Homo sapiens: one gene and its partner. The protein of the gene in region 2 interacts with the protein of the main gene of each other region in a pairwise test. Each region holds a gene or a part of one and is shown on either strand. Other genes may lie near its edges. The genes, in order: EPB41L1 and STARD13.

Evidence for each region.
Region 1: the proteins of STARD13 (region 2) and EPB41L1 interact in a two-hybrid assay, tested with the Homo sapiens proteins (one study listed by BioGRID and IntAct).

Annotation. Positions count from the first base shown.
Region 1 is NC_000020.11:36,188,949-36,192,763, reverse strand, and holds part of EPB41L1 (band 4.1-like protein 1), read right to left. Parts: intron 2,488-3,815; coding exon 2,390-2,487; intron 2,143-2,389; coding exon 1,967-2,142; intron 1-1,966. UniProt on the Homo sapiens protein: May function to confer stability and plasticity to neuronal membrane via multiple interactions, including the spectrin-actin-based cytoskeleton, integral membrane channels and membrane-associated guanylate kinases.
Region 2 is NC_000013.11:33,107,468-33,111,282, forward strand, and holds part of STARD13 (stAR-related lipid transfer protein 13), read right to left. Parts: intron 3,441-3,815; coding exon 3,219-3,440; intron 2,624-3,218; coding exon 2,406-2,623; intron 1-2,405. UniProt on the Homo sapiens protein: GTPase-activating protein for RhoA, and perhaps for Cdc42. May be involved in regulation of cytoskeletal reorganization, cell proliferation and cell motility. Acts a tumor suppressor in hepatocellular carcinoma cells.

The DNA of each region.
Region 1 (3,815 bases), on a different chromosome or scaffold from region 2:
ACAAATGCTTACAAACCTGCTATTCTATGAGCTCCTCAAAGGAAAGGACCAAACCTATTCACTCTAAATACTATACCCAGGACCCAACACAAGGCCTGGCACACATATAACACTCAGAAAATATAAGTAGAACTAACTTGCCTGGAGGCCTGCCCCAAGGTGTTCTGGGAGTATCCACGGTTTCCCTACCCAAGTCCCCACTTTCCACCTTTTTTTTTTTTTTTTTTTTTTTGAGACGGAGTCTTGCTCTGTCACCAGGCTAGAGTACAGTGGCGGTGCAATCTTGGCTCACTGCAACCTTCATCTCCCGGGTTCAAGTGATTCTCCTGCCTGAGCTCCCGAGTAGCTGGGACTACAGGCGCCTGCCACCATGCCTGGCTAATCTTTGTATTTTTAGTAGAGACGAGGTTTCACCATGTTGGCCAGGATGGTCTTGATCTCTGGACCTCGTGATCCACCTGCCTTGGCTTCCCGAAGTGTTGGGATTATAGGTGTGAGCCACTGTGCCTGGCCTTTTTATTTTTTATTTTTTTTATTTTTTTTGAGATGGAGTCTCGCTTTGTTGCCCAGGCTGGAATGCAATGGTGTGAGCTCACTGCAACCTCTGCCTCCCAGGTCCAAGCAATTCTCCTGTTTCAGCCTCCCGAGTAGCTGAGATTACAGGTGCATGCCACCACGCCCGGCTAATTTTTGTATTTTTAGTAGAGATGGGGTTTCATCATATTGGTCAGGCTGGTCTCGAACTCCTGACCTCAGGTGATCTGCCCGCCTTGGCCTCCCAAAGTGCTGGGATTACAGGCATGAGTCACCATGCCCAGCCCCCACTTCCCACCTTTAAGCCACTCTCTACAAACCTAAAAACAATAATGATGGGTACAATTTCTTAAGGTGCTACTATGTGCCACAGAATATTTTCTAGGCATGATCTCATTTAGTTTTCCCTAGAACACAGCAAAGTAGGTACTATGTATTTTGTAGAAGAGGAAATAGGCTCAGGGAGTTAAATAAGTTGCTTAAGGTCACCCATCCATTCATTCAGATATTTATGAACCACTTCCAGTGTCCAGAGAACAGCCCACGGTGACTGTCAAGCCGAGATTTGAACTCAGATCTGCATAATTCTGAATCTCCCCAGTGACCCATGTGACTTCCGAACATCACCTACAAACTCTAGTGTGTACATCCTGGGGAGAGACTTGGGCCCTGAAGGGTGCTGATTTAGTAGGTCTGGGGCAAAACCTGGGAATTTTCGTGCTTGCTTAACAATCTCACAGGCGACTCTGATGAAACGTGGTTTGTGCACCACATTTTAAGCCCTATCTGCTTGCTACAGGACTATATAGGGCCAGTTTTCATTGATGTTAAGGGCACCCATCAATCCAATAGAAATGGGGACAGTGGAGAGTGCCATGTGGTTAGATTGTCAATCAGCCCAGAACCTAGTAGAACCAAAAGAATGACCAAGAACGATGCCCTGGCCTCCCAGCAGATAAGGCATCATCAGCTCCACACTGCAGTCATAAGACACTATTCTCCTAGTATGATGATGACCAGTGTAAGGGACACCAGCCTGCAGCAGAGGGATGCAGGGGAGGAGGGTGAATCAGACCTGCACTGCCAGGCCCAAGGTTAGACCACAGGTTAGACTGGTGGATTGCTAAGCTTCTTGGGTAGGTGGCCCAAACCATATGGCTAAACCTGGGACCCCAAAAGACCACGACTCAGGGAAGTTGTGGGGAATCCAGAGAGTGGTAGTATCACATCTCAAGTGGGAGTGAGCTCTAGGTTGGGACTAAGCCACCAAGAGCTGCCCAGGGACAGCACTGGTCTTGAGGGGCCAGCCTGGTGCAGATGAACTTGGGATGCATCTACCATTTTCCTGCTCATTCTGCAGAACCCAGCATGCCCACTCCCCCAGTTCCCTCTGAAGACCATTCCCCGCCCAGCCCTCCAATTTGGGCCATACCTCCATCAAGGCTGCGGGACATGGTGTACCGTTTGCTGGAAGAACGCTCAAAGAAGGGTGCAGGCCGGTCAATGAGGGCGCTGGCCTGGCGAGTCTGTGCCTGGGTCCTCCCACTGTACCGGAACTTGGAGCCCATCACCAGGAAGCCCTTGGGTGGGGGCTCAGGGGACACCAGCCTGCAGCAGAGGGATGCAGGGGAGGAGGAGGAATCAGACCTGCACTGCCAGGCCCAAGGTTAGACCACAGCTGGCCTTTCATCCCACTACTCCACCAACTACAACAATTCAAAGTGGTCCAGGAAGGGAGGGACTTGGGGAAAGGGTGGAGGACTTTCCTAGAGTTCTCACTAACTCCTCCCCCTGCTCCCCTCCATACACATGGCCTCTGCCCCATCCCCATTACCCCATCCAAGGTCAGGCTCACCGGAAGAATGTATGATGCTCGATGCAGACCTTCCACAGTCTCTTGGCTGACCGGTGGTTTGGGAGCTTAAAGCCAATTGTGCTCTCAAATTGCTCATACTGGAAAACCAAAAGGGCAGGTTAGAGGCAGGGCCTGAGCTCACTCTCGCCACTAGCCCATTCTTTGTGTTTTTTATTTTATTTGTTTAATGTTTTTTTGAGACACAGGGTCTCGATCATTTGCCCAGGGTGGAGTACAGTGGCGCAATCATAGCTCACTGTAACCTTGAATTCCTGGGCTCAAGAGATCCTCCTGCCTCAGCCTCCCAAGTAGCCAGGACTACAGTCAGACGACACCACACCAGCTAATTTTTTGTAGAGAATGAGTCTCACTATGTTGCCTAGGCTGGTCTCCAACTCCTGGGCTCAAGCAGTCCTCCCACCTCAGCCTCCCAAAATGCTGGGATTACAGACGTGAGTCATTCTTTCTGAACTCTTCTCAGGCATCTGCGACTTTGGCCTGTTCATTCACTGAATCAATAAGGGTGATTGAGCCCTTACTCTGTGACGGGTCCAGTGCTAAACACTAGAGATACATGGAGACCAAGGCAGAAGATTCTAGTAGGGGAAGGGGACCTCCAATAACAAATAAGCAAACAAGATAATTGCAGACACTGATCAGGGCTACAAGGGGAATGAAGGGAGATGTGTGGTGCAGCAGAACTGGGAAGGCATAGGGGCTCCTGTCATCTAAGGAAGAGCAGGGGATCCCCTCTAGACCTAGATCTAGGTGATCTTGAGCTGACATTTGAAGAATGGGAAGGAACCAGCTATGTGAGAAGCGAGAGGGGGAGATACTTTCAGGTAAAGGAAACATCAAATGCGAAGCACTCAGGCAGGAAAGAGCTCGACTTATTCAAAGATCTCAAGGCCGAAGAGGCTAAAGCACCTTGGGCATGGGGCAGTGTGGCAAGGGATAGGTGGGAGAGGTAGGTGGCCATGGAAGGAGTTTGAAGTTTAGCTCAAGAGCTAAAGAGAGTTCCTGAAAGGTGTAAGCAAGGGTGTGGATGGGAAGGGGGAGTGGGCTTGCCATGATCTGATTTAAGGGACTTTTTAAGATCTCTCCAGCAGCTATGAGGAAAATGACCTGGAGAGCACCAGAGGCGAGGGAGAAGGCCCTCATAGGCACAGGCAAAAGATGGGGGATGCTGGAGGCGGGTGTGATGGAGAGGAAGAGAAGCAAATGGGTTCATGTTTATTCTACAGGTACAACCAAATGGGCTTTTTGATGGGTGAGATGTAGGTAATTGAAGGAAAAGAGGTGTAGACATATACATGTTTGCATTTGTGTGTGTTGTATGTATAGTCGAGTCTGTGTATCTTAAAATGTGTACAAACTTCCATACTTACAACACCTAAATACATGAACTTTACACAGACATGTATTC
Region 2 (3,815 bases):
TGGAGAAGGCTTCCTGGAGGAGGGCATGCTCAAAGAGAAGTGAACTGGTACGCTTAGCTTGAAGGAAAAGAAACATATGTGGGCCTGCTTATTGTCTTCACATACTTGAGTGGCTCTTGAGTGGGAGAAGAAATGAATATGGTTGATTTGACTCCAGAAGGCAGAGATAGGAAAGTACATTTCTGTGCAGGAGAGAAGCACTGTCTAACAATGTGCACTGTTCAGAAATGAAATGTGCTGCCCTGGGAGGCAGTGAGCTCCCTGTTCCTAGAGCTATTCAAGCAGAGGTGGCTACCCCTTGAAAAAAGGTTGTGGATGGGAGTCAGGAGCTATGAGAACATCTCTGTAACAACCTCTAACTTCCCTTTCTACCCCAGGGATCTATCATAATAGATTGCATTATTAGAATTCCCATGATTTACTCCACAAATTCTATTCCCTTACTAAGTCATGTCCTCCATGATTTCACCCTGTCCTCCTACACCAGGAAGAGAAATGGTGATATGTGCTTGACAAGAACTTGGGAATAACCAAGCCCCACACAAATGCTCAGCGACTTCCATGCTGTGACTACTCTTTTCATGAACGAAGATGTGATAAATCGTGACGACTGAAAGTTGTAGAGATTTGTTGGGATAAATGGGAGAATCTCCAGCAACTCTCAGCGGAAGCTCCCGAGGAGCTAGCAATGGGTGTGACATGAGAGACAAATGCAGCAATCCTGAAAGGTGACCAGCCTCATACATGCTAGCCTAGACTGTAAGATGCTCTGAAGACAGGAGGCATCTCAGCCCCGTGCCTCCTCACCACACTCATCACTTTCCACCTCCTTGTATCCTACACATAAGGAATTCCTGTTGTTGGGAACCAGATCTGGTTCATTGTTAGCCCGTGGAGGGCTGCACCTCTTCTCCTTCAGGGCCACATGGTCCACTCCACTTCTTCAAGTCTTGGATCAAAATCAGTGCAGCAAGACCCCGCCCTGACCATTCTATTTAAAATTCCATCCCTTACTATCTCCCTATCTTATTCCTCCCAGGATAAGTAAGCCCATCTCCCTTTCTTATTTTTTATGGACTTTCCCCAGTGAAATACAAACCCCAAGAGAGCAGGAGAGGGGTTTGCTGCATTCCCTTGGCATACCCAGAGCCTATTGCAGTGCCTGGCACGTGGTCGTGATGGAACGAAGCACTGATAAATAGCAGGCTGGTGGGGTTGCCGGATGGATGGAAGGAGGGAGGTTCTACACACAGACTCAGGCCCTCAGCCTCCTCTGGAGGGAGGGAGGAGGCACGCTATGGCATGGCCCCATTCCTATGGCAGCCATCCTGCAACAGCTATTCAACTTTCCACTTGTGGAGTGAAAGCATGAAGTTTAATTCCACCAGATGACTAATGTCCTAATAACTTTGGTAATATGCCACCCTTATAAACTGCCTGCATTCTCCAGCAGGATCCCAAGGAAGCAGAGATAAATACATATATTTAGGGAAAATTGACCTTTAAAAGTCAAGGTTCCATGGGCCAATTCCCAAGTCATAAAGAGCTCATGTGAAAAGTAACCTTTAGTTTGCCATCAAAACTGGTTTCATAAAGAAAGCGTTTTAAATATACATTTGGGAGTTTCACAATAGGTTCCTTTTACACTGCTGATCTGTGACATGAGACAAGGCTTGCCAAGATTTTCAATAAAAAAGGATATATTGATCTAATTACCTTCTATTCAGGTTCTTTAGCACCCTCAATTTCTGTTCTGGCTGATGCAACACTGCATCTCTACTGTGCAAACTTTCTATCATTGGTTGAGCATCCCCTTCCAAACCCCAAGAACAGGGGTCTGGAACTCAACCCTTACATCAATCAGAAGAAATATTTCCTTGGCAGACACAGAATCAACAAGATTTTCTGGACCTCCAGGGCAGTGCCAAGGTTTCTGAGCATAGTAATAGCTATGAGCATCTGAAGTTATACAGATGAGTTCTGAAGTCAAACCTACTCCAGTCTTGAGAGTTACACACACTTTCCCAGGGGAGAAAAACAAAATCAGAAGAAAAGCCAGTCAGATCCATTTGCATAATTTGGCAGAAAGTGCAACCGGACAAACAGCAGCTTTTCTGGGCCGTCTGCTCTGAGGAAATGAATAATATTTATGGCCTAATAAACTGTGTGCTCCACAAGGAGAGGGGCAATCAGAGAGCCCAGGCAGAGCTGTAGGCTGGGTGAAAAGACACAGGAAGTCGGGCATCGACACAGAAAACTCAGATGTCACTGAGGGAAACAAGAGCCGGCTTAGTGTTCCCCGTGGAGGCTGGACTTTGGTGGGAGACACCAGGAGAAGTGCTCACATCTACAGTTCGCGTCCTGCCTTTGGAACAGAACATCATAAACCCTAGAGTCAGGCTCACCTGAGAACCACAAAGTCTCTGGAAGGATGGGGAGCCATGCTGTTCAGCACATACTGGTAGATCTCTGTTTGCCTGTCTAGAGTTTCCACAACCTTCCACTGCACAAAGTCCTCGTCCCACAGGTGGCGCTCTCTCAGCACGCGGTTCAGGACCACTGAGGGGGGTGCTTCCACCTCCACAGAAGCCTTCCACAGCTTCAGCGGGTTCCCGTCGCCCACCTTGGGAAAGACAACGTCAGAAGCTGAAGAGGTTGTCTGGGATATGGGTCCAACATTTTTTGTTTGGGCTTTTAGTTTTGCTATCATACCTTGCTGGGTGTTCAAAAACCATCACTGATTATGTAAATTGAGAGTGATACTACATACCTCAGCTGTAACATTTTAGTCCTTAAGCTTAAAAGAATAATAATGATGATAAAAATAATAATCACCAACACACCTAGTGGTTACTGTGTGCCAGGAACTATTCTAAGCCATTTGGTTTGTAAATTAGCCTTCCTCCGACAGTGGTACTCTTACAATGTCCATTTTGCAAATGGGAAAACTGAGGCACAGAGAGGTGTGTGACTTGCCCAACATCACACAGCTACGGGGGAGAGACAGGACCGGGATCCAGCTGTCCGGCTCCATAGTTTACTCTCTGATTATAGGCAACAGATCTCTGGACTGAGTTCTTTGAATGGTTCATGTGCCTTAACTGTCCGCGTGTGTGCCAAGCCCTGTGGACACAGCAGCTGTTTTCAATGCAAAAACAAATGTCTGATTGTTAGCTGTGGCTTTCTGGGGGTGATCTTTTTCCATCCTCTGAGATTACCTTTTTGAAAGCAAGATCTGTATTGTCCGTGCTGGAGCACGTGACCCATCCTTTGAACTTCTCCTTGGCTTCTTTCTGGAGGCCCTGGATGAGATGGTTCAGGTAAGTGTGGAAAGTTGCCCCACTCTCCTCCAGCTGTGTCCCCAATTCTTCCAGGGTTGGCACGTGGATCTCAGCCTCCACATACGAGTTACGAGACTGGGCCACCAACTCGTGTGGAACCTAGACCAACGGATGCATGAAAGGGCAACACACTGAGCCAAAGAAACGCCGAGACTCAAAGAAAGCAAAGCCATTTCACCCACAACCCGGCTCTGAGCCACGGGCCGAGGGCCACACGGCCAGAGATGTTTTTCTAAGATCATTGCCAAGGCCGGGAGGGGCCTTCCTAAAGTCAGGAAATACAAACATGTTTCTGAGGCTGTATTTATTATTCAAAACATTGCAATGACTTCCCCTTTATTATTTTCACTTCCCTTTTATTTTACCTTTACTGTCTTTTTATTCAGTTTGGCAAAATATGGGCTCAGACAACTTTACCCACTATGAATAAGACTTAAAACAGACAGACTTGTGAAGGGAAACATCAAACATGAC